Homo sapiens: one gene and its partners. The protein of the gene in region 1 interacts with the protein of each later gene in a biochemical or structural test. Each region holds a gene or a part of one and is shown on either strand. Other genes may lie near its edges. The genes, in order: RARA, SP1, PIN1, KLF5, UBR5, TDG and MAPK1.

The links.
Region 2: the proteins of RARA (region 1) and SP1 form a complex in vitro, tested with the Homo sapiens proteins (2 studies listed by BioGRID).
Region 3: the proteins of RARA (region 1) and PIN1 form a complex in vitro, tested with the Homo sapiens proteins (one study listed by BioGRID).
Region 4: the proteins of RARA (region 1) and KLF5 form a complex in vitro, tested with the Homo sapiens proteins (one study listed by BioGRID).
Region 5: the proteins of RARA (region 1) and UBR5 form a complex in vitro, tested with the Homo sapiens proteins (one study listed by BioGRID).
Region 6: the proteins of RARA (region 1) and TDG form a complex in vitro, tested with the Homo sapiens proteins (one study listed by BioGRID).
Region 7: of the proteins of RARA (region 1) and MAPK1, one has a biochemical effect on the other in vitro, tested with the Homo sapiens proteins (one study listed by BioGRID).

Annotation. Positions count from the first base shown.
Region 1 is NC_000017.11:40,350,680-40,354,179, reverse strand, and holds part of RARA (retinoic acid receptor alpha), read right to left. Parts: intron 2,271-3,500; coding exon 2,110-2,270; intron 1,850-2,109; coding exon 1,673-1,849; intron 1-1,672. UniProt on the Homo sapiens protein: Receptor for retinoic acid. Retinoic acid receptors bind as heterodimers to their target response elements in response to their ligands, all-trans or 9-cis retinoic acid, and regulate gene expression in various biological processes.
Region 2 is NC_000012.12:53,407,676-53,411,175, reverse strand, and holds part of SP1 (transcription factor Sp1), read right to left. Parts: intron 1,815-3,500; coding exon 1,615-1,814; intron 250-1,614; coding exon 1-249. UniProt on the Homo sapiens protein: Transcription factor that can activate or repress transcription in response to physiological and pathological stimuli.
Region 3 is NC_000019.10:9,841,818-9,845,317, forward strand, and holds part of PIN1 (peptidyl-prolyl cis-trans isomerase NIMA-interacting 1), read left to right. Parts: intron 1-3,500. UniProt on the Homo sapiens protein: Peptidyl-prolyl cis/trans isomerase (PPIase) that binds to and isomerizes specific phosphorylated Ser/Thr-Pro (pSer/Thr-Pro) motifs.
Region 4 is NC_000013.11:73,065,505-73,069,004, reverse strand, and holds part of KLF5 (Krueppel-like factor 5), read right to left. Parts: intron 1-3,500. UniProt on the Homo sapiens protein: Transcription factor that binds to GC box promoter elements. Activates the transcription of these genes.
Region 5 is NC_000008.11:102,402,701-102,406,200, forward strand, and holds part of UBR5 (E3 ubiquitin-protein ligase UBR5), read right to left. Parts: intron 1-3,500. UniProt on the Homo sapiens protein: E3 ubiquitin-protein ligase involved in different protein quality control pathways in the cytoplasm and nucleus. Mainly acts as a ubiquitin chain elongator that extends pre-ubiquitinated substrates.
Region 6 is NC_000012.12:103,964,561-103,968,671, forward strand, and holds the start of TDG (G/T mismatch-specific thymine DNA glycosylase), read left to right. Parts: upstream 1-1,311; 5' UTR 1,312-1,477; coding exon 1,478-1,500; intron 1,501-4,111. UniProt on the Homo sapiens protein: DNA glycosylase that plays a key role in active DNA demethylation: specifically recognizes and binds 5-formylcytosine (5fC) and 5-carboxylcytosine (5caC) in the context of CpG sites and mediates their excision through base-excision repair (BER) to install an unmethylated cytosine.
Region 7 is NC_000022.11:21,791,146-21,794,645, reverse strand, and holds part of MAPK1 (mitogen-activated protein kinase 1), read left to right. Parts: intron 1-3,500. UniProt on the Homo sapiens protein: Serine/threonine kinase which acts as an essential component of the MAP kinase signal transduction pathway. MAPK1/ERK2 and MAPK3/ERK1 are the 2 MAPKs which play an important role in the MAPK/ERK cascade.

The DNA of each region.
Region 1 (3,500 bases):
TGATAGAATTTTCTACAATGATGGAAAGGTTCTACGTCTGCACCATCCATACCTCAGCCACCAGCCACATGCGTCTACTGAGTACTTGAAATGTGGCTAATGCAACTGAGGAACTGAATTGAGTTTAATTTTAATTAATTTAAATTTAAAGAGTCACATGTGGTGAGCAGCTACTGTACTGGATAGTGCAGGTCCAGGTCATCCTGCCTACATGCAAAGAATGTAGAGGGGACCTAGAATTTCTAGGAGCTAAGGAACACTGGGCTGCTGCCTACAGCTCCCAGGATGAGGTACACAACAAGCGCTCAGTAAATGTGTATTGGCTTGAATGTGGTTGCAGGAACCCAGACGGCACCTCCTGCATCCACGGCATGGGGATGGGAGCCCCTGCAGGCAGCACAATCTAAACCTCCCACCCATCACCCGCCTCAACATTCAGAGGTGCCCATGGAGAAATGACAGTCTGCCGGCTCACGCGGGAGGATCACCTGAGGTCAGGAGTTCGAGACCGGCCTGGCCAACATGGTGAAACCCCGTCTCTACAAAAATACAAAAATTAGCCGGGTGTGGTGGCGGGTGCCTGTAATCCCAGCTACTCAGGAGGCTGAGGCAGGAGAATCGCTTGAACCCGGGAGGCAGCAGTTGCAGGCTGCAGTGAGCCAAGATCATACTACTGCACTCCAGCCTGGGTGACAAGAGTGAAACTCCATCTCAAAAAAGAAAAACATAAAAAGAAATGACAGTCTCGTCAAATCCCAGGTTCCCCACCCTGGAGGTGACCAAGAGGGAACAGGTGGACCGAGCCCTTGTCAGGGACAGCAGGAAGGAGAGTGCTCCCTCCAGCCTAGGCTTTGGCAGTTCCCACCACCTCTTCCTGCCCCCACCCCCTGCATCCAGCCTCCAGCCCAGTCTACCCTCGGGCTCACCTCACCGAGTGCCCGGCAGTCCCCTGAGCTCAGCATGGCCTCACAGCAGCAAGTCTTTCACTTCCTGCTCCTGAGTTAGGGCTACCCTCTCACCTCCCCCTCTACAAACCCCTAGATGTCACCTCCTCTGAGACATCATCCTTCAGGCCCAAGCAGTCACAAGCCCTCCCCCAATCTCCAGGAAGCATTGATCACAGTTTTGCAACCTCTGTTGACTTATCTCTTGCCTCACATGGAAGGTTTTCAAGAGAGGGGATGGTGGTGCATTCACCGCTGGGTTCCTGACACCCAGCTCGAACACTGGCCAGAGGATCCTAGGTGAATCTTTTTAGTTTTTTGCAGAAATAAGGTCTCACTATGTTGCCCAGGGTGGTCTTGAACTTCCAGCCTCAAGTGATCCTCCTGCCTCGCTCGGCCTCCCAAAGTGCTGGGATTACAGGTATGAGCCACTGCACCTGGCTCCTACGTGAATCTTTATTACTGGCTAAATGGATGGATGGCTGGGTGGCTGGATATGTGTATGGGTGAACAGGTGAGCTCCTGCACATCTGGCTGCTAGGTGGCTGAGTGGACAGGGAGACGAGTGGACAGGTGGACATATGGGGAGAGGAAGGGCAGACATTTGGGCGGTGGGCATTTGGACAGGTTGATTGCAGACAGACATTTAGGAGGGTGGCTGTCTGGCTGGAAGGACATCTACCCAGGACACAGGGGCAGTGCCTGGGGGCCAGGGTGCAGACCCTCACCAGGATGTCCAGGCAGGCAGCCTTGAGGAGGGTGATCTGGTCGGCGATGGTGAGGGTGGTGAAGCCGGGCAGCTGCTTGGCGAACTCCACAGTCTTAATGATGCACTTGGTGGAGAGTTCACTGAACTTGTCCCAGAGGTCAATGTCCAGAGAGACACGTTGTTCTGAGCTGTTGTTCTGGGGGAGGAGGGAGAGTGAGGGCCTTCTTCTCCATGGCACCCCTTCTCAGCCTGGCTCCAGCCCCCACAGGCCTGCCCTCTACCCAGCCTTCACTTCCTGGGAGCTCCTTGGGAAGAGGCAGCAGGAGGAGGGAGAAGAGAGGGGAAGGGAAGGACGCAGAGATCTTGCCTGGCACAAGAAGGGGTGCCTGAGAGGGGCCCATCCTGGCCCTGTGGCCCTGGGCAAATCCCACCCTGCAGGCCGGGGGAAAGCCATACCGTAGTGTATTTGCCCAGCTGGCAGAGGGCAGGGAAGGTTTCCTGGTGCGCTTTGCGCACCTTCTCAATGAGCTCCCCCACCTCCGGCGTCAGCGTGTAGCTCTCAGAGCACTCGGGCTTGGGCACCTCCTTCTTCTTCTTGTTTCGGTCGTTTCTCACAGCTGTGGAGGGCAGAGGGGGTTAAGAGGGCAGCTGCAGGCTGCTCAGGGCCTCGTCCACCCCCAGCCTGACAGAGAGCTGCCAGCTGCTGAGGAGGTCACCCAGGCTTGTAAGCACGCGCACACAGCACGCGTTCACGGGCAGGCAAGGCATTGCCACGCACTCCAGCCCTCCATGCCCACCCAACCCACACATCAAGTTCTGCCCCAGAAGCCCCATGAGCACAGCTGTGGCCCTGCACACACCCCCCACCCCACCCCATAGCCAGCCGCATGCTATCCCCCACGCGTCTACTCCAGCTCACACTCCAGGCGACGGTGCCCTCCTAGGTGCTCTGCCTCCTCTTTCCCCAGGAAGGTCCTTCTCCCGCCTCCACTCACCCAGCCCTCCCAGCTGCAGTCTCCCTGGGGGTCCCTTGGGACTGGCTCTGAGCAGCTCCTGGGGCAAGTGGGGAGTAGGGCTCCCCAGCCTGAGAGTGGGGGACCTGGCGGGGAGAATCTCTTGGCCCATTAGCTGGGGAGCTGACAAATCACCAGGGGCGCTGAGCCGCACACACCACTCGGCTTTAAAGAAGCGATGGGGTCGTTACCAGCCGATTATCCAGACACACAATCACTCACAGGGCTGGTGGTGGTGGCTGCTGACGCGGGAGGAAGGGAGGGTGGGGGAGGGGCTCAGGGAGGGGGTAGCGAGGTGGGGGTAGCTGGCATAATTTGGAGATCACTCATGTCGATTCTGCAAATTCAATAAAGTGCAGGGGAGAGAAGGGAGAGGGAGAGGGAGAGTGGGGGGATAATTTGGGAAGAGAAAATTGCAGCTGTGACAAGACGTTTATCATTCGGAAGCTTTAATTCTATTGAAATGGCAGCTGCTCAGCTCCGGGGCACAGAGCAGCCGGGAGAGGGGGAGTTGGCGGTGGGAGGGAGAAGGGGAGTTGGCGGTGGGAGGGAGAAGGGGTCCCCTCCCTGGTCCTTCTGCCATGAAAAGAGCAGAAGGTGGCACAAACAGAGAGGAGGAGGTGACAGCCCTTAAGCGAAGGGTTCCAGGCTTGTGGGTCTTGAGTTGTCACCCACTCTTGCAGCAGGAGCCACTTCCTGGGCTCAGGACAAGGCACCCCCAGCCTCCTGTGGCAGGACACTCCAGTCCCCTCCATTCCTGTCTGGGGCTCTTCGTGCAACAGTCAGAACCATCTCACCCGTGCCCCCTCCCCACTGCCCTCCCCACAAAGGGCT
Region 2 (3,500 bases), on another chromosome or scaffold:
TGTTGGCAAGACGGGCAATGCCCTCTGGACAGATGGCCTCCATGGCTACCATATTGGTGGTAATAAGGGCTGAAGGAGTGGCAGTGCCACTGCCTTCTGAACCTGCCCCACTGTCCAGGGGCAAAGTGCCCACACTCAGAGCTACACCTGGGCCTCCCTTCTTATTCTGGTGGGTCTTGATATGTTTTGACAGGTGGTCACTCCTCATGAAGCGCTTAGGACACTCAGGGCAGGCAAATTTCTTCTCACCTAGGTAAAGGAAGAAAAGATAAGAAGCTGACATGTTAGGAAGTGAGGTTACCTTACCCAATTCAGTGCTTACTCTACTAAGCTGAGTAAGGCCAGTATGAGAAGGTGATCAAAAACAAGAAAAATCTTCAAGTGGCTGGGCGTGGTGGCTCACGCTTGTAATCCCAGCACTTTGGGAGGCCAAGGCGGGCAGATCACGAGGTCAGGAGATCAAGACCACGGTGAAACCCTGTCTCTACTAAAAATACAAAAAATTAGCCGGGCGTGGTGGCGGGCGCCTGTAGTCCCAGCTACTCGGAGAGGCTGAGGCAGGAGAATGGCGTGGACCCGGGAGGCGGAGCTTGCAGTGAGCCGAGATCGCGCCACTGCACTCCAGCCTGGGCGACAGAGACTCTGTCTCAAAAAAAAAACAAAAAACAAAAAACTTCAAGTATATTTTCCTTTTGGCGGGGGCGTGAGGAAGAAAACTAGATAAAGGTTGGGGAGTACTCGGTAAGGAAGGTAGAACTTAGCAGTTTTAAAAGTAAGGCAGGGCAGAGACTAAGAGTAATGGTTTCAATGCTTCACCTTCAAAAATCCCACTCAAAATCTAGCTCCTTATTTTATTTTATTTTATTTTTTTGAGACAGAGTCTTGCTCTGTCGCCTAGGCTGGAGTGCAGTGGCACAATCTCAGCTCACTGTAACCTCCGCCTCCAAGGTTCAAGCAATTCTCCTGCCTCAGCCTCCTGAGTAGCTGGGATTACAGGTGTGCACCAGCACGCTTGACTATTTTGTAATTTTAGTAGAGACAGGGTTTCCCCATGTTGGCCAGGCTGGTCTTGAACTCCTGACCTCAAGAAATCCACCCACCTCGGCCTCCCAAAGGGCTGGGATTACAGGCATGAGCCACGACACCTGGCTCCTTCCTTTTTTTTTGAGACAGTGTCTCGCTCTGTCGCCCAGGCTGGAGTGCAGTGGCACGATCTTGGCTCATTGCAAGCTCCGCCTCCCAGGTTCATGCCACTCTCCTGCCTCCACCTCCTGAGTAGCTGCAACTACAGGCGCCTGCCACCATGCCCGGCTAATTTTTTTGTATATTTAGTAGAGACGGGGTTTCACCATGTTAGCCAGAATGGTCTCGATCTCCTGACCTCGTGATCTGCCCGCCTCGGCCTCCAAAAGTGCTGGGATTACAGGCGTGAGCCACTGCACCCAGCCCCTCCTTCCTTCTTAAAAATTTTCCAGATTAACTCCAATTCCATTTGTGACCCATATATTCAGTTTCAAATTAAGTTGCTCAGAAATTTTAGTTATTTTGTAGGTATATTTTGTGTTTTTCATTCTAGTCTATTACTATTTTTCTCTCCCATAGGCTCTTGCTCACCTGTGTGTGTACGTTTGTGCCTCTGTAGCTCATCCGAACGTGTGAAGCGTTTCCCACAGTATGACCAGGTACACATAAATGGCCTCTCGCCTGTATGCCAGCGCAAGTGTGCCCGCAGGTGAGAGGTCTTGCCATACACTTTCCCACAGCCTTGGATGTGGCAAATATGCTGTTTCTTTTTGCCAGGATCCCCCGAGCCCCTGAAAGTGAGGACACAACTGTTAATCATTCATTCTAGAGAAAACTAAAGAACCACAAAGTATCAACAGCAATCACCCAATCGACACCAAACTAACCCAAACTTTTATTTTTTGAAAAAGTCTTCTTTTTTGTTTTTTTGAGAGAGTCTCACTCTGTCGTCCAGGCTGGAGTACAGTAGCATGATCACGGCTCACTGCAACCTCCGCCTCCTAGGTTCAAGCGATTCTCCTGCCTCAGCCTCCCGAGTAGCTGGGATTACAGGTGCACACCACCATGCCCAGCTAATTTTTATATTTTTAGTGCAGATGAGGTTTCGCAATGTTGGCGAGGCTGGTCTCGAACCCCTGAGCTCAGGTGATGGATCTGCCCACCTCCGCCTCCCAAAGTACTGGGATTACAGGCGTGAGCCACTGCACTGGACCAAGGCTTCTTTTTTTTGTTCGTTTGTTTGTTTTGAGACGGAGTCTCGCTCTGTCGCCCAGGCTGGAGTGTAATAGCGCAATCTTGGCTCACTGCAACCTCCACCTCCCGGGTTCACGCCATTCTCCTGCCTCAGCCTCCCGAGTAGCTGGGACTATGGGTGCCCGCCACCACACCCGGCTAATTTTTTGTATTTTTAGTAGAGACGGGGTTTCACCATGTTAGCCAGGATGGTCTCGATCTCCTGACCTTGTGATCCACCCACCTCGGCCTCCCAAAGTGCTGGGATTACAGGCGTGAGCCACCGCACCCGGCCAAGCCTTCTTTTTTAAAAAGGTTTCTAGGGGCTGGGAGTGATGGCTCACGCCTGTAATCCCAACACTTTTGGAGGCCGAGGCAGGTGGATTGATCACCTGAGGTCAGGGATCCGAGACCAGCCTGGCCAACATGGCGAAACCTCATCTGTACTAAAAAATACAAAAATTGTTCAAGACCAGTCTTATCAACATGGTCCCCATCTCTACTAAAAATACAAAATTAGCCAGGCGTGGTGGCACATGCCTGTAATCCCAGCTACTTGGGAGGCTGAAGCAGAGGAATTGCTTGAACCTGGGAGGTGGAGGTTGCAGTGAGCCGAGATCGTGCCGTTGCACTCCAGCCTGGGCAACAAGAGCGAAGCTCTTTTTTTTTTTTTTGAGACAGAGTCTCACTCTGTCGCCCAGGCTAGAGTGTAACGGCACGATCTCGGTTCACTGCAACCTCCACCTCCCAAGTTCGAGCAATTCTCCTACCTCAACCTCCCAAGTAGCTGGGATTACAGGCACCTGACACCACGCCGGTTAATTTTTGTACTTTTAGTAGAGATGGGGTTTCACCATGTTGGCCAGGCTGGTCTTGTACTCCTGACCTCAGGTGATCCGCCCGCCTTGGCCTCCCAAAGTGCTGGGATTACAGGCGTGAGCCACCGTACCCGGATGAAGATCTGTCTTAAAAAAAAAAAAAGGCCGGGCGCCCCCATGGCTCATGCCTGTAATCCCAGCACTTTGGGAGGCCAAGGCAGGCGGATCACAAGGTCAGGAGATCGAGACCACCCTGGCTAACACGGTGAAACCCCGTCTCTACTAAAAATACAAAAAATTAGCTGGGCGAGGTGGCGGGCACCTGTAGTCCCAGCTACTAGGGAGGCTGAGGCAGGAGAATGGCGTGAACCCAGGGGGCGGAGCCTGCAGTGAGCCAAGATTGTGCCACTGCACTCCAGCCTGGGC
Region 3 (3,500 bases), on another chromosome or scaffold:
TATAAGAGTGAGCAGGAGGGTGCAGGCATTTGGGGATGGAGCGGCATGAAGTGGGCTCCTGGGGGTCAGCAGAGCAGCCAGGCGCAGGACAGAGCTGCTCCAAGCAATCCTGATGAGAGCTGGCAGAAGGCTGAGGTCGGTGGGGATAGTGAGGAGGGCATGGGTCTGGGTGTGGTGGGCGAGGGTGTCTCGCCCATCTCTGGGTTGGACAGGTGCACCTGGTAAGTAGCCAGGCCCTGAGGCGTCACCGTAGGTACCTGCAGATTCTGGAATGTCAGCAGGAGCCTTGCCTGCCCACCTGGTGGAAGCTGTGGGAGGAATTGGAGCAAGAGGCGGTGTGACTTGAACTTGGGGGCTGGAAGTGGAAGAAGAAGTGAGAGGGAGCAGACCCGAGAGAGATTCAGGAGGCAGGATAGAGAGGACTGGGTGATGGATTAGGTGGGCAAGGGTGGGATGTCTGGGGGAGGGTCAGGGCAGAACAGCGTGGCCCACCCTGGGCTCGTACAGGGCTGGATTTCAGTGCCAGCTGTGTGGTCTTCATTTCCTGAGCCTCAGTTGCCTCATCTGTAGAATGGGGAGAGGGTGGCTATGAGGATCCAGGAGCTATGGGCTCAGTGGCTGGCGTGCTCTGCACGGTGGAGCCTCAGCCCCAGTCATTGGGGTGTGGACGATGGGGGAGCTGAGGTCAAGTCAAGGCCTCTGCTCACGGGCAGCCCCTGCTGCCACCCCACAGCCCGTAGAAAGAGTTCCGGATAGGACCACAGGAGGCCTGGTGGGCTCAGCACACAGATGATGACCTTGGCACACGACCTCCCTCTCCTGGTATCCTCCTGCCTGAGACGGTGCTGGGGCAGATCTCCTCAGAGGTCGATAGGAGGATGCAGTGAGGTGGCCCCGGCCGAGGTACACTCGGTAACAGATCATCATGTGCAGTGTCGGCGCAGGCATTGGGCACCTGGGCCTCATTTTCTCTTCCATGAAGTGGATGTTCTCCCCTCGAGGGTTCATGCCGGGTGATCAGGAGACCATGATTTGGGCAGCTCACTCCCCAGCTGGCAGCCGGGCTAAATCTCATCAGTGCCCATTTAGATCTGGTGCTCCGCCCTTGCCCCGAAGGGACAGGCTGCCTGCAGAGAGAGCCGGGACCTCCACATTTTCTGCTGAGGCTCCTTTTCCCAGCATTGGCTCCTCTGCAGCTGCTGGGCCACAGCCAGAGGCTGTCAGAGATCCAAGGGAGTCATTGCCAGTGTCCTTGTCTAAGGAGGATGGGCCATGGAGAAGCCCTCCCTGCCCGCTCTCCACCCAGATCTGTTGACAGCCACCCCTCACATGCCCAGGGCCTGGAGGGTCCCAGCAAGGCTGAGACTATGAGCAGCTGTCCTACTCACATACCCATCCCAGCATCCAGGTCAGCCCCTTTGTCCTGGGGTCCTCAAGGTCACTGGCGCCCTTCCAGCCTGCTGGCCTTGGGCCAGCCTCTAGCCCCTCCTTCTGGATCTTGGTCTTCTCAGATCTGACCCTGTCACCTCTTTCCCCGACCAGGCCCCTTCCCCTCTGGTGCCTGGGCAGCCTGGGGGAAGTATGCTGGAAGCAGCGTAATGATCTGGCAAGGCAGAGGAGACAGCACGTCTTGAAACATTTTTGGGGTCAAGGACTACCCCATTTGTTCCCTCACTCCCACCTAGGTCACTGATGTGCATTAGCTTGGACTGTTGTAACAAAATATCACAGACAGTGTGGCTTAAACAACAGTCATCACTTTCCACAGTTCTGGAGGCCAGAAGTCCACAATCCAGGTTCCCTCAGATTCTGTTCCTGGCGAGAACCCACTTCCTGGCTTGTAGACGGCTGCCCTCTCACTGTGCACTCACATGGCATTCCCCAGGCGCATGTGCACGGAGTGAAGGAGCACGAGCTCTCTGGTGTCTCTTATAAGGACACTAATCCTGGCCAGGCGCAGTGGCTCATGCCTGTAATCCCAGCACTTTGGGAGACTGAGGTGGGTGGATCACCTGAGGTCAGGAATTCAAGACCAGCCTGGCCAACATGGTAAAACTCCATCTCTACTAAAAATACTAAAAAAAAAGCCAGATGTAGTGGCGCACACCTGTGATCCCAGCTACTCAGGAGGCTGAGGCAGGAGGATCGCTGGAACCTGGGAGGCAGAGGTCACAGTGAGCCGAGATTGTACCACTGCACTCCAGCCTGGGTGACAGAGCCAGATTCTGCCTCAAAAAAAAAAGGGGCGCTAATCCTGTTGGATCAGGGCCCCACCCTTATGACCTCATTTAACCCTAGTTACTTCCCCAAAGTCCCCATCTCCAGATGCAGCCACACTGGAGGTTAGGGCTTTAACACATGAATTTGGGGTGACACAAACATTGAGTCCATAACGGATGGGCAGCTTGGATCTGTCAGGGGCCTGCTCTGCAACAGCCACTGCTTAAGCGGTCACTGATTCACTCCTTGGAACAGGCTCCAACGTGGGAGCAGCGGTTACCCCATTTTACAGGCCAGTTGAGTGAGGCTCCAAGAGGTAAAGTCACCTGCCAGACTCTCATTGTTCAGGAGCAGCAGAGGTAGGATCTGGACCTGATGGAGTCTGGAGTCAGCACCCATAACATGTCCTCCTGGACCTTGGGGATACACTGTGAGCAGGCTGGCTGGGGTCTGCCAGCACAGATAGGTGCCATTCTGTTTTGCATACTATTTCAGGGGGTCCTGAACACCTTGAAGCAGGTGGAGGCCCCTGCTCCAGACTGGGAGCTCCTGGAGAGGCCACCCTGTGTCTGTGTGGTTCTAAGCTGGAGCCACATCGAATCAGGATGGGGCTCCAGCACCCGACAGTCCCCATCAAATTTCACAGGTTTTGGCGCCGTCGGGCAAGGCTGACACATTGTCTTGGAGGAGGCCCAGGAAGTCTGGCCTTAGGGTCGCAGCCTGAGTTTCAGGCAGATAGGGCATGAGATTCCAGCATTTCTGCTTCGAGCCCCGTGGTAGATCCCTGTCTCCCTCCTTCCCCATGGCCTATTTCTGTCTCATTTATTCATTAACTTCTTGAACATTCGTGAACACCTGTTTTGTGCACAGTGCTGGGTTCTGAGGGTGCAGCAATGAAGAAGGCCAACCCAGCAGCCTCCATTCCTGCACTGTGAGGCGGGCAAGCAACACACCAATGGGACGGTAGTAAATGCAGCACCCAGGGGGAGGCACCTAACACAGTGGGGGATTAGGGGAGGCTTCTTGGGGAGACCAGAGGATAGCTGATGAGTTTCAGGCAGGACAAGAGGCTTAAACCAAGGTCTGCGAGGTGGGAGTCGGAGGATGTCATTGTCGCGGGGTCAGGTACAGGCTGAGCTAACAAGACACACAGGACCAAACCCCTCAAGGTCAGCCTCACAGAGCAGGAACTCAGGAAGAAAGCGTTTTTGTTTGTTTGTTTGTTTGTTTGTTTGTTTGTTTGAAATGGAGTTTCGCTCTTGTTGCCCACGCTGGAGTGC
Region 4 (3,500 bases), on another chromosome or scaffold:
CCTGCATCAGGCTCCCAAGTAGCTGGGACTATAGGCATGTGCCACCATGCCCAGCTAATTTTTGTATTTTTAGTAGAGACAGGGTTTCACTATGTTGGCCAGGCTGGTCTCGAACCCCTGAACTCAGGTGATCCACCTGCCTCCGCCTCCCAAAGAGCTGGGATTACAGGCGTGAGCCGCCACCGCGCCCAGCCAAATATTATCGAGATTTTAAAACCAAAAGCTATGTTTAATATATTCCATGAAAAATGACTTTGGAGCAAAGACCTAGAAAGGAATTTTTTTTTTTTTTTTTTTTTTTGAGATGGAGTCTCACTCTGTTGCCCAGGCTGGAGTGCAGTGGCACGATCTCAGCTCACTGCAACCTCCGCCTCGTGGGTTCAAACGAGTCTCTTGCCTCAGCCTCCTGAGTAACTGGGACTACAGGCATGTGCCACCACGCCTGACTAATTTTTGTATTTTTAGTGGAGATGGGGTTTTGCCTTGTTGGCCAGGCTGGTCTCGAACCCCTAAACTCAGGTGATCCACCTGCTTCGGCCTCCCAAGTGCCAGAATTACAGGTGTGGGCCACTGTGCCAGGCCCTAGAAAAGAAATTCATATCTAAGGATCTTTTAGTACCCAAACTGAAAGTCAATATATTCAGCAGCAAATCTCAAGTACAGATTATACGAAGTATAACTAATAACATCTTACTACACATGTCAGTAGGCAATAAAGTCTTCTGCAAAAGACAGTAAGGCAGAAAATGGGAATGTAACCCCTTTACAAACTAGGCTTCCACTAAAAATCTTTCCAGGACTTAATGTGGAAATCTTTCCTAAACAGGGAATCTTGAACACAGTGCTTTAAGAGTCCATTTTGTGAGTCTGGCGTGGTGGCTCACGCCTGTAATCCCAGCACTTTGGGAGGCTGGGGCGGGTGGATCATCTGAGGTCAGGAGTTCGAGACCAGCCTGGCCAACATGGTGAAACCCCGTCTCCACTAAAAATACAAAAATTAGCCGGGCGTGGTGGCAGGCGCCTGTAATCCCAGCTACTTGAGAGGCTGAGGCAGGAGAATCGCTTGAACCTGGGAGGTGGAGGTTGCAGTGAGCCGAGATCGCACCATTGCACTCCAGCCTGGGGACGAAAGCGAGACTTCATCTCAAAAAAAAAAAAAAAAGAAGAGTGAATTTTGTGTTCCTATGTTATTTGTACAATGTTTCCATTTTCTCCTACGGGCGTGTTTCAAATTGTCCTTTTCCATTGTCAATCTCCAGTAAGCCACTCTGGGATCACTTAGTACACACAGAGTCCAATGCATGGAGTCTGGGTCTGAGGAATACTTGAGCCAAGTGTGTGTTGTTCAAAGACTTTCTTTGTACAAATGCTAATTTCTTGCCCTGTTCCAGATAGCTGAAACGGGGGAAAAAAAAGAAAGAAAAAATCTAGAAACGTTACCGTACCCTGATTTCCCAACAGCTTTTCCATATTCTCTAAGGTTAAGTGTATATCCACGCACATGAAGGGAACCGCTAGGACTTCAAACATCTGTGTTGAGTTCATGGTTTACTTTTTCAGAACTTTTTCTCTGGTAAGAACTTTTTAAATTTCTACAAATTTTTGTTTGAAGATACAGTCAATATATTTTCCTACTGATTTCAACTTGCCTCAAACCTTTGCAAACTTAGACATTATTTTAAATGTTCATTATATTAAAGAAAAAAGTAAGGTATGTGAGCATATAATACTGGTTGCAATAGACAGTTTATCAGTCATGTTGATTTATAAAGACAAAACAGTATACTTGGGAGCAACTTTAGAGTAATAGCAATGTGTTCCGCCCCTTGTAGACATCATGAGGCATACAAATTTCAGTACAATGTTCATTTAAATGCTGTTAAAAGTACAAATATTTTGAATTGGAAATACACCACTCATTGACATTGTTACCTAGAAGCAGCCATAATTATTTCTCACCAAAGGCATGATAAATGTATACACACACATACTACAAATAATACATGCGAACATCCACATCTATAAGGGGTGCTTCTACAGGCCTTATGCTATACTATGTATGTACAGATATAAATAAAATATAATTATTCCCTAGAATAGAAGCAAATGTTTCCAGTATTGTCTAATCACACAAAGAAGACAGAACTTTGTATTATTTATATGCGATTTCCTGATAAAGAAATCAAAGTATATGAACTTAGAAGACTTGAATGCTATACTTCTGGTTTAAGAAACTGATATATCATCTACTCTGTCATCTCAGATTACTTAAAAAGTTCTATTTTGTTAAGACTATTATTTGCTTAGGTTCAATTTGCAACCCAAGTTAAAGAAGCACTTCCAATCTAAAAATCCAGAAGAAGTAATTAAACTCAGATGTAGGCTGTTTTCATTGCCTAAATTATTTTTAAAACATAAGGTAACTTGACATTTTAAAGCAATTACAATTATTTTCCAAAGAAATGCTAGGGTGCTTCACATTCTGCCTGTAAAACGACAATCATTTAAAGAGTATTTTATGTCATCAACTGTTGTGTGGTTTTTAAAGTCCTCTGATCAACGGTCCGAGAGGGAGGAGGAGGACAGAAAGAAAACCAAAAAAAGCTATTACATAAGAGAAGTAATTTAGAAAAACTGTCCTAACTGTTCTACCTGGGCCTTAAAGGGAAAGAAAAAAAAAAAACACCTTTGCTGGCTTCAGATACATTCATTTAAAAACAACAGGCGGGCAGGGTGGGGAGGATGCAATGAGAGAACAGGTAATTTTAAAAGGCATTGTCTAGAAATGAGAAATGAGGAGAAAACAACCTCAATGCTCTATGATTACCCAAGAACAGGTTTAGCCAGATGAACAAGTCTGCTACAAACCCTCCCCAAGGCATTTGAAAGACTATCAAACAAAACTTTATTAAACTGGATTACATGTTCTCATTCATTAGATGTTGAAGGCCACAATGTTTATGGTCAGGTGAAAAAGCTGATGCAAGGGACCCAAACCAGGTCTCGGTCTTCTTTTCAGTCTGTTTTTATTAGTACAAGCATTGTTAAGACAACCCACGATTAAATGTATTTGCCGGCAGGTCAAGTTCCTGAATCGCAGGTATAAGCATTCAGGGCACTAAACCCTGACGGGGTGAAAGGCTATTCAGATATGGGTTTGACTACATCCCTGCAATAAGTAGTTGATTACATCGTTATATGCAATTGTGCTCTTTTATTAGGAGACTTTAAACCCAGGAAAATGTGTTCCCTCCTATCTCTCAAGGACTTCCAAAAGTGAAAAAAACAATAGTTCAAATGTCTTTATATTTCCATTTATATTCTGTAAAAGGACATTTTGGTATTTCTACATGGAATATTTTCCTGGCACTTGTCATTTGTATTTTGAAAACTTTAAGTTGGAGTTTTTATAACATGCTTAATTCATTTGTGTTTAACTATAAAAATTTCTACCTTGGGCTGCCTATGAAGGATCCTTCCTCTTATGTAATCAGTTTGTC
Region 5 (3,500 bases), on another chromosome or scaffold:
GTTCCAGGTTGTCTGTGAGGTAGACCTGGTATCTGAATTCAAGTAAAGACCTGGAATACCTCATCGCCTGAATTCTGAACAGCAGATTCATGCTGGAGCAGAGCCAATTTCTTGAAACGGCAGGTTCTCGACACTTCTATATCACAGAAATGGAGCCTGAACTCATGGGGAAGAAAATAAAAACTTATCTACTGATCCATTCATCACAGTGCTTTGTCGACTAGCCACTATCATCATCTTTATAACTAGCAATCTAGAATACAACCATTACATTTAATGGAATTCTAAAATATAATCTTTTTACATATACTAGTATGTTTTTTAATTAACACAAAAATTTGCTGTCAAGAAAAATCTAGGTTTTTATTATCAGTGGACTTTTCCTATGAAAAACATTGTGATAAATTGAAGCCAAGAAAAACTTCAGGCCAGCCATGGTGTCTCCTGCCTGTAATCCCAGCATTTTGGGAGGCCAAGGTGGGAAGACAGCTTGAGGCCAGGAGTCTGAGACCAGCCTAGGCAACACAGCAAGACCATGTCTCTAATTTTAAAGAAATAAATAAGGCGAGGCACAGTGGTTCATGCCTGTAATCCCAGCACCTTGGAGAGGCTGAGACGGGATAATTGCTTGAGCCCAGGAGTTCGAGACCAGCCTGGGCAACACAGAGAGACTCCATCTCTACAAAAAATTAAAAATTAGCCAGATGTGGTAATGCAAGCCTGTAGTCCCAGATACTCAGGAGGCTGAGGCAGGAGGATCGCTTGAGCCCAGAAGGTCAAGGCTGCAGTGAGCCATGTTCACATCACTACACTCCAGCCTGGGCAATAGCGCAAGAGCCTGTCTCAAAAAAAATTAAAATAATAAATAAACAAGAAAAAAATAAAGACTAGAGAATAGCTAGAAAGAGTAAACTACCCAAATTTATATCAGCTAGAAAGCAGATTTAAAAACTGTGGTACAGTCATGAAATAAGTACTACTTTTTTTGTTTGTTTTGAGACAGAGTCTCACTCTGTTGCCCAGGCTGGAATTCAATGACACAATCTTGATTCACTGCAACCTCCACCTTCCCAGGTCAAGCAATGAAAATACTACTTTTAATATAAAAGAAGAAACTACTACATGCTGCAACACAGATCTGTTGCAAAAGCACTGTTCTAAGCAAAAGAAAACAGACACATGATTCCATTTCTATGAAATTCAAAAAGGAAAAGCATTACAGTGAGAGAAAGCAGAACAATGGTTGCTAGGTAGCCAGGACCTAGCCTAGGGGGAAGTGACTGAAAATACAAAGGGAAACCAGGTAACTTTTTGGGGTGATGAAAATGTCCTGTACCTGGATTGTGGTGGTGATTACACAACTGTACACATTTGCCGAAATTCATCAAACTGTACACCTAAAATGGGTTAATTTTACTGAATGTAAAGTATAACTCAATAAAGATGAAAGAGTCAAAGACATTTTATTAAGTGATACTGTCAGAAATTGAACAAATAACAGTACTTTAGCTGTGCAAGTAACATAAATTGTGTATTTACAAGTAAAATAACATTAAATATTAATACCTTCTTTAATATCCTGACAAAATGACAATGTTACAAAGCATGGTTATCTAAGAATTTATCGTATTTCTAATTTGGAAGGGGTTTTGTTACCACTACACTGATTGTCTCAAGAAAGTAATAAGAAATATGATCTCAGAGAATAATTTCTTATAGCCAAGTTCAATTGACTAATACCTCACCTGTCTATTAGTTCATGAAAATGCTGCAAACTTTTCACATGACAATCTTATTTCTCAAAGTGACCCCATGGAAAAATCACTGAATTTCAAGAATCCTGTCTTATCATCCTTATCTAACAATTACAAGTGACTGCTGACAAAAAATGCTGTCATACCGGAGGTTAAGAAGTTATAGCACTGAGGCCTGGCACAGTGGCTCACGCCTGTAATCCCAACACCCTGGGAGGCTAAGGCAGGTGAACACCTGAGGTCGGGAGTTCGAGACCAGCCTGACCAACATGGTCAAACCCCGTCTCCACTAAAAATACAAAATTAGCCAGGCGTGGTGGCTCACACCTATAATCTCAGCCACTTGGGAAGCTGAGGCAGGAGAATCACTTGAACCCGGGAGGCGGAAGTTGCAGTGAGCAGAGATCACGCCACTGCACTCGAGCCTGGGCAACAAGAGCGAAACTCCATCTCAAAAAAAAAAAAAAAAAAAAAAAGTTACAGCACTGAGCTTTAAGGAACTAAATAATTCCCCAGTGGCCCCTTCTTCTAAGGTTACAATCCAAATTCTAAGGTTATTCTACAAATGTCAAATTTTTTAACATGTTAGAACCCAATCAGCTTTATTAAGTAAAATTATCAAAATTGTCAATCAGAAATAAGCATTTATGAGACAACAGGAAAATCTGGGCAATTTTGTTATTAAGGTTTTTTCAGGTTTTTTTTTAAAGGCTTCATATTTTGAAATATATAGTGAAGATACAGCAATTAAATTACCTGATAGAGGAGAATAAATGGGGAGAGAGTTGAAATCAGATTGGCCATGAGTTGACAACTGTTAAGACTGTGTGATGGGAACATGGTTGTTCATCATACTATTCTCTCTACTCTTGTATATGCTTAAAATTTTCCAAAATAAAAGGCTTAAAAATAATACTCAGGGGAAAACTTAAAAACCAGTTCTAAAAATAAACCAACAATTCATAACCACAGTGAGCCAAGAGAAGAGGCTATTTTCACATGACCAGAATGCCAAGGAGTCAAAATGACAGAAACATGGATGCTAACTAGAGTCTGTTTTCTTAATTAGAAATATGTATAATATGGGCGAGCGCAGTGGCTCCCGCCTGTAATCCCAACACTTTGGGAGGCCTAGGTGGGCAGATCACGAGGTCAGGAGTTCAAGACCAGCGTGATCAACACGGTGAAACCCCATCTCTACTAAAAATACAAAAATTAGCCAGGTATGGTGGCGTGCGCCTGTACTCCCAGCTACTCAGGAGGCTGAGGCAGCAGAATCGCTTGAACCCGGGAGGCGGAGGTTGCAGTGAGCCAAGATTGTGCCAAAATGGCACCACTGCATTCCAGCGTGGGCAAGAGCGAGACTCAAAAAACAAAATAAATATGTATGATAAAATGAGGGAGGGGAGACATTAAGTACATCCTCCTGTAACATAAAATTGCTTCCTTTAATATACCTTATAAGATCTACGTCCATGTAACTCAGTCTTCAGCAATTAAATTTTCCTTTGGAAACTATTTCCTAAATAACCTAATGGTCTAATTGTTAGGGGAAAAAACCCTGACCTTTCCTAATTTCACCTATTATTCCTAGTCGTATTCCTGTGTATCCTGTAATTTTCTTCACAAGTGTCTGTTTATTCCTAGGCCTATGATTCAGTCACAGATATCCTGATTTATAAAATTGCTCTGCCTTTGTTTTGATTTTCTATTTTGCTTGGCTATTCTACACCCTGCTGTTAATCT
Region 6 (4,111 bases), on another chromosome or scaffold:
ACATCCTGAGAAAAGTTTACTCTCTTCACACACATTTTCAGTCACCAGAATTCTCTCCCAAAGCATTCAGCAGTCTTTGGTTAATGTGTCTTTCTGGATGCCCTGAAATAACTGAGGCAAGCCACCTGCTGTAAGACTTTTCTAGACGATGGTCCTGAGCCATTGGCAAAATCAGAGAGGATGGGCTTTTTTCATTCACTCAACATATATTCATTGAATATTTACCATGTGCCAGGTTCTGAGTAGTGTCTACTAATGGACAGGGTATTCATAAAAGTTCTGTACTGTTTTAAACGTTTCACTCAAACTTTAAACAGTTGATATATTACAAAAATCTTTCTGTATTTACTCACGAAAGCCTGGATCCTAGAATGAAGAAAATACATGGAGCACAGAGCCACAGCCATCTCCCAGCTCACAGATCACGTGAGTGAGAAATAAACTTCTGTGGCTGTAAACCACTGAAGGTTTGGAGTTACCTGTTACTATATGAATAAACTCAGGAAAGCCAACAAATACAGCAGCCATGTTTTTCATCATCCTGCAAACTAGAAAAACCCAAAAGCCTATTCCATTAAGAGTTCCTTAATAAAGTACAAACACCAGTGACAGAAATTGAGAACTAATGAAACAAAAGCCAGCTGCAAGAACCACTGAGACATAAAAGAGGGGTTAGTCTGTAAGATTACGAACCACTGAGATTTAAAAGAGGGGTTAGTCTGTAAGGTTATGGGAGGTGATGCTCGAATGGGATCTAGTCTCGTAGACGTCAAACGTTAATATTCTCATATATCCAAAGTAATGCGGAGAGTGGTTTATGTAGAGCTTTACATTTTACATAGCAGCTTTACATTCACCCTCATTTCACAGATAAGGAAACTGAGGCCCAAGATGGCACAGTGGCCTCGACGCCCAGGTTTTCCACTTTCAAAGACCCTCCCTCACATCTCATTACCTGATAATGCAACACAGTCTTTAATCGGGGCGAATTTCGGGGTGGAAAGGACTAGATAATGCTGATAAGCGTCATCATCCCATATACACAGCACCCCAAGGACAGCACCCTATCGCCCACGCGTCCACCAGCCCCCGAAAATACTGGAGACAAAAGCTGACGTCGGCAGAGCGCTCCTAGTCCCCGTCTTCTGGTCCTCCACCCTTCCCGAAAGGCCAAGCGGCGGAGCTGGGGCGCCAACGAGAAGGGGGTGAGCGTGATTGGGCTGTCCTACATCACGTGACGGCCAGTACGCGTGGGATTTGGCTCCGAGGAGGCGGAAGTGCAGCACAGAAAGGGGGTCCGTGGGGGACGGTAGAAGCCTGGAGGAGGAGCTTGAGTCCAGCCACTGTCTGGGTACTGCCAGCCATCGGGCCCAGGTCTCTGGGGTTGTCTTACCGCAGTGAGTACCACGCGGTACTACAGAGACCGGCTGCCCGTGTGCCCGGCAGGTGGAGCCGCCCGCATCAGCGGCCTCGGGGAATGGAAGCGGAGAACGCGGGCAGGTAATACCGGGGCCAGCGCCGCCCCTCCCTTGCGCCCCTCACTGCTGGGCAGGCTGGCTGGCGCGCGCGCGCGCACGCAGGGGTCTTTTAAATCCCGGCCGGAATACAAAGGCCGGGGCCGCGCGTGCGCACTGTGGCCTGGTCGGCCTTTCCTTCCCTGGCTGCGGCGGTGGTGGTGGAGGTCGGGGCTGCTCTGAGGGTTACCTGGTGCACCTGGACCCTTCTTTGGTTCCCCGCGATAACCAGTTGACTATAAAATATATTAGTAAGCATTCAGCAGTCTTTGGTTAATGTGTCTTTCTGGATGCCATTCTTGGCTAGAAGGGTTTTCCGTCACCCTCCATTACCACGCAGAGAGCTGTAAAGATGAGTGTCGAACATTTCCAGCTCCAGGAGTTTTCATTTTAAAGTTGGTTGATTTGTTGCGGCTTCCCCCCACCCCAAAGGCCTACTGAAAGCAACTTTAAGGGTCACGGGTTAGATAATTTTGTTGTGGGCATATGTATACACTCTCGAGTAGTCAATCTAAAAATGACCTTTGAGTTTTCCAGTGGCCTTGGGGACGATCTTAAGAATCCGTTTTTAAAAAGTCCTTTGGGGGAGTCAAGAGAAAAATTTGCAAAAGCAGGAGATTTAGGGACTTGAACTCCTGGCGGAAGACTAAATTTTTAAAAAATGGATATGGTGACAGTTTTTTAAAAGATAAAGAGTGATGATTTACATTGAAATTAAAAGGAAAAAAACCTATGCCTAATGAAGAATTATCCTGACTCTCAGTGGCTAATGGGAGCTGAATTTAGGCAATACAAGGGACTTATATGGGCCTGTTCATGTCTGTAAAGTTGGCATGTCTGGAATCTGATTCTGACATGCCGAGAATTGGTGTTACATGAAAGGGCACACTAACCAAAATAAATTAGAGCTTAGGAAAAGAGATATATGTAGACAAAGTGTGGACTTTATCTTGACTTTGTGGATCAAGTCCTGGAATAAATTACTCCACTTCTTTCCCAGAAGAACTTTACAAATAAGAGAATTCACCAGAATTTGTGGAAATCTCTCTCTCATAACCTCACTTAAGAGCAGAATTGAAACTTGGGCCAAGAATAAATTACACATTGTAAGACTTTATTCAGGGTCTTACAGCAAAATAGTAGGACTTCAATACACTGTTTAGCTCAAAGCTGTGATATGTCGGCCTGACTTCATCCAAAAGGCTATAGACCAGATTTTATTTTGCCTTGAAAAGCTTTCACCTTCAGGAACTGTGGAAAATTCTGTGTAATCTTCTGAAATGACTCAGACCCCAGGTAATCCTTAAGAGAGTAGTTCTCTGTCACCCTTGACTGTGCTAATCAAGAAATGTAATGTGGGATGTGAAAAAAAATAAATTTACTTTTTTTTTTTTTTTTTTTGAGACAGAGCCTTGCTCTGTTGCCCAGGCTGGAGTGCAGTGGCGGATCTTGGCTCACTGCAACCTCCATCACCCGGGTTCAAGCGATTCTCCCGCTGCAGCCTCCCAAGTAGCTGGGATTACAGGCACCTGCCACCAGGCCTGGCTAATTTTTGTATTTTTAGTAGAGACAGGGTTTCACCATGTTGGCCAGGCTGGTCTTGAACTCTTGCCCTCAAGTGATCCACCTGCCTCGGCCTCCCAAAGTGCTAGGATTACAAATGTGAGCCACCGGGCCCAGCCGACTTTTTTAGAAGACTAATTTCAGATATTCAAAGAAGAAAATTCAAATTCCATGAATACAGACTTTTTTTTTTGTTTTTTTTTTTTTTTGAGACAGAGTTTCACTCTGTTGCCCAAGATGGAGTACAGTGGTGCGATCACCGTTCACTGCAACCTCTGCTTCCCGAGTTTAAGCGATTCTCATGCCTCAGCCTCCCAAGCATCTGGGACTACAGGTACCCAACACCACGCCCAGCTAATTTTTTGTATATTTAGCAGAGACGAGGTTTCACCATTTTGGCCAGGCGGGTCTTGAACTCCTGGCTTCAAGTGATCACTTTGGCCTCCCAAAGTGCTGGGATTACAAGCATGAGCCAAAGCGCCCAGCCTAGACTTTATTTCAATGGCAAAATAGTTCAGGAGTCTTAGAAAGTGCTTACAGTCAATCAACCAGAGAGGAATAAAGGAGGAATTTTCTAAGGGTACTGGGGAGTTTCCCGTGACCTCAGGCGTGAAAAAGACATTTACCGAAGATGGAAAATAGGATGCCAAATCAAAAGTAACTGGAAGAGAGTAGCATGGACCACTAAGAATACCAACAGGAAAGATTAACCCTTGCATGAGAGTAGACTTTATAGAAATGTTAAGGAGACCAGGAAGGACTGTTTTGGTTAGATGTTGACAACAAGAAGAATAAAAAAGATTTGGGTTTTCTCCCCAGTCTACTGGCATGGTGGCAGCAGACAACAGAACACCTAAGTACTTTGTTCTGATTTGGATTTTACATCTCCTATGTTAGCAAAATGATTGTCTGACTGGAAATGGCAGAATGAATATCTGTAAGACTTAAAGCTCAAGACCAGTGAAGGCATTTAGGAGAAGTTTCAGGTGTTCTAACAGAATCATATGCCTTGGCCTGCGTGTGTTGTGTTTCAA
Region 7 (3,500 bases), on another chromosome or scaffold:
CCGGCTAATTTTTGTATGTTTTTGTAGGGACAGGGTTTTGCCATGTTGGCCAGGCTGGTCTCAAACTCCTGGGCTCAACTGATCCACCCACCTCAGCCTCCCAAATTGCTAGGATTGCAGGCATGACCCACTGCGCCCAGCCAAGATCCCTTTACATTTGTTAAAAATTATCAAGGACCAGCTGGGCATGGTGGCTCACACTTATAATCCTAGCACTTTGGGAGGCCGAGGCGGGTGGATCAGTTGAGCCCAGGAGTTCGAGACCAGCCTGGCCAACATGGAGAAACCCTGTCTCTACTAAAAATACAAAAAATGCACTGGGCATGGTGGCACACACCTGTAATCCCAGCTACTTGGAGGCTGAGGCAGGAGAATCGCTTGAACCTGGGAGGTGGAGGTTGCAGTGAGCCGAGATCTTGCCACAGTACTCCAGCCTGGGTGACAGAGTGAGACTCTGTCTCAAAAAAAAAAAAAAAGTCAAGGACCCACACACCTTTTTTTAGTTACGTAGGTTATATCTATTGTTATTTACAATATGAAACTTTTTTTTTTTTAATTTTTGGAGAGAAGTCTGGCGCTTGTCCCCCAGGCTTGAGTGCAATGGCTCAATCTTGGCTCACTGCGACCTCTGCCTCCCGGGTTCAAATGATTCTCCGGCCTCGCCTCCCGTGTAGCTGAGACTACAAGTGTGTACCACCATGCCCGGCTAATTTTTGTATTTTTTAGTACAGATGGGGTTTCACCATGTTGGCCAGGCTGCTCTTGAACTTCTGACTTCAGGTGATCCACCCGCCTCGGCTTCCCAAAGTGCTGGGGTTACAGGCATGAGCCACCACACCCGGCCTACAATATGAAACTTTAAAATGTATTAATTAATTTTTAAATAGTAAACCCACTACATGTTAAGATAAATTACATGTTTTTCTTAAGAATAAGTTTATTTTCTACAATAAAAACGTTTTAGTGAGGCCAGGCATGATGGCTCTCACCTATAATCCCAACACTTTGGAAGGCCAATGCAGGAGGATCACCAGGAGTTTGGAACCAGCCCTGGTGACATAGTGAGACTCTGTACAAAAAAGAAATTTATTTATTTATTTATTTATTTTTTGAGACGGAGTCGTGCTCTGTCACCCAGGCTGGAGTGCAGTGGTGTGATCTCAGCTCACTGCAAGGTCCGCCTCCCAGGTTCACGCCATTCTCCTGCCTCAGCCTCCCGAGTAGCTGGGACTACAGGCGTCCGCCACCACGCCTGGCTAATTTTTTTGTATTTTTAGTAGAGACAGGGTTTTAACCATGTTAGCCAGGATGGGCTCAACCTCCTGACCTTGTGGTCCACCTGCCTCGGCCTTCCAAAGTGCTGGGATTACAGGTGTGAGCTGCTGTGCCCTGCCATCTGTACAAAAAATTTTAAAATCAGCTGGGCATGGTGGTGTGCACCTATAGTTCCAGCCACTCAAGAGGCTGAGATGGGAGATTTTCTTGAGCCCAGGAAATTGAGGCTGCGGTGTACCGTGATCACGCCACTGCACTCCAGCCTGGGCAACAGGGTGAGACCCTGTCTTTAAAAAAAGCAAAACGAAAAACAACCTTTTAGTGAGAAGAGTGGCATTGTTTTCATTTTTGCAAGTCTCTTTAATGTCTGGCTTAATAGAAGACAGTTGGATTCTCATCTGGTTCTGCATTCAGTCTGTCAAATATGTTGTTTTGGTTTAAGTTCATGAGGAAAACTCTTTTTTTTTTTTTTTTCAGGCTTTAATCAATTTAATAATCAATATAATATTACATGCATAGTTCTTCAAAAATGTCAAGGAAAACTCTTTCCCATGGATTTTAACTGCTTGAATTCAGAGCATAGAAAACAGAAGAAAACTTGAGTGCAATATTAATAAAGACCCTTTAAAAAAGATGTTATATAAAAAGAAAAATCGCAAGCCAGTGAAAAATACATGCAAAATTCTAAATAACATTTTAGCAAACAAAATCTATGCTTAAAAGCATAACACACAAAAAAGTGAGATTTTTCCCTAGTATGTAACAGTAATCAGACATTTTATCAAGACATTTACAAATAAGCCTAAAAATAGATGTCTGAGTGCTATTTATGAAATTCAAGATCTATTCCTCCCATCCAAGCACTAACCAGGCCAACCCTGCTTAGCTTCCGAGATCAGACAAGATCGGGCGTGTTCAGGGTGGTATGGCCAGAGGAAAACTCTTCACACAGGTATGTAGCTGGAAAAAGGAGGGAAATTTTAGTAGTCTTTTCAGCCACTTGTGGCTATTCTTTGATCCTACCCCCAGTTTAAACAAGTGGTGGTTTCTTAAAGGTTAATTGCAGTGTGGAATCTGAAATCATATCAGTGAATTCTTGATACTATTTCGTTAAAATCCATTAGTCTACCTTGCACTCATACTCATGCATGATTTTTTAGCGTATTTGGAAAATACTGGTTCACTGAGTTACACAGATATTCCAAGTGTCACATTTTCATGTACACATCATCACTCATCATATTGCATCTGGAAAAATCTTCTTTTCACTCGTGACTGAAAAGGATGAAAATGTCATAGTAGTATAATAAATGTACTGTGACCTCTCAGATCCTCTAGAGGGAACCCATAGGAGTCTCTGGAACACTCTTGTAGAACCGCCAGATAGAACTCCTAAATACCCTTTACCCCAGATTCAGGCTCACCGATTTTTTATCTTTTGCCCCATTTGCTTTATCATTCTTTGTGTGCATGTGTGTGGGCACTCCCACGCACTCTGAGTCATTTGAGAGTAAATTGTAGATACACCCCTTCACCTTGTTTCAGTATGTCTTTACTTCAAACCATGGTCCTGTTGTTCCCTGGGGACATGTGGCAGGGTTGTCACAGTGAGGGGTAGGGGTACTCCCTGCATCAAGAGGCCAGAGATGCTGCTAAAAATCCTACGATATACAGAACAGCCCTCCAAACAGAAACTTTCTCAGCCCAAAATGTTAGTCATACCGAGGTTGAAAAACCCTGCCTTAAGAGTATTCTCTAACATGACCACAGTACAGTTTTCAAAATCAAGAAACTTAATACTGATTCAGTATCTAATGCACAGTTTATATTCACATTTTAGATATTATCCCAATAACCTTTGAACTATACCCCACCCAAACCACCCCCCGACCTGGGCACAGGTTCACATGTTGTACTGTCATGAGTTTTGTTTGTTTGCTTGTTTGCTTGCTTGTTTTAAGACCAGGTTCGCAGGCCAGCCACAGTGGCTCACACCTGTAATCCCAGCACTCTGGGAGGCCAAGGTGGGTGAATCACATGGGGTCAGGAGTTCGAGATCAGCCTGGCCAACATGGCAAAACCCTGTCTCTGCTAAAAATACAAAAAATTTAGCTGGACATAGTGGCAGGCACCTGTGATCCCAGCTACTCAGGAGGCTGAGGCAGGAGAATCGCTTGAACCCAGGAGGTGGAGGTTGCATGAGCTGAGATCGTGCCATTGCACTC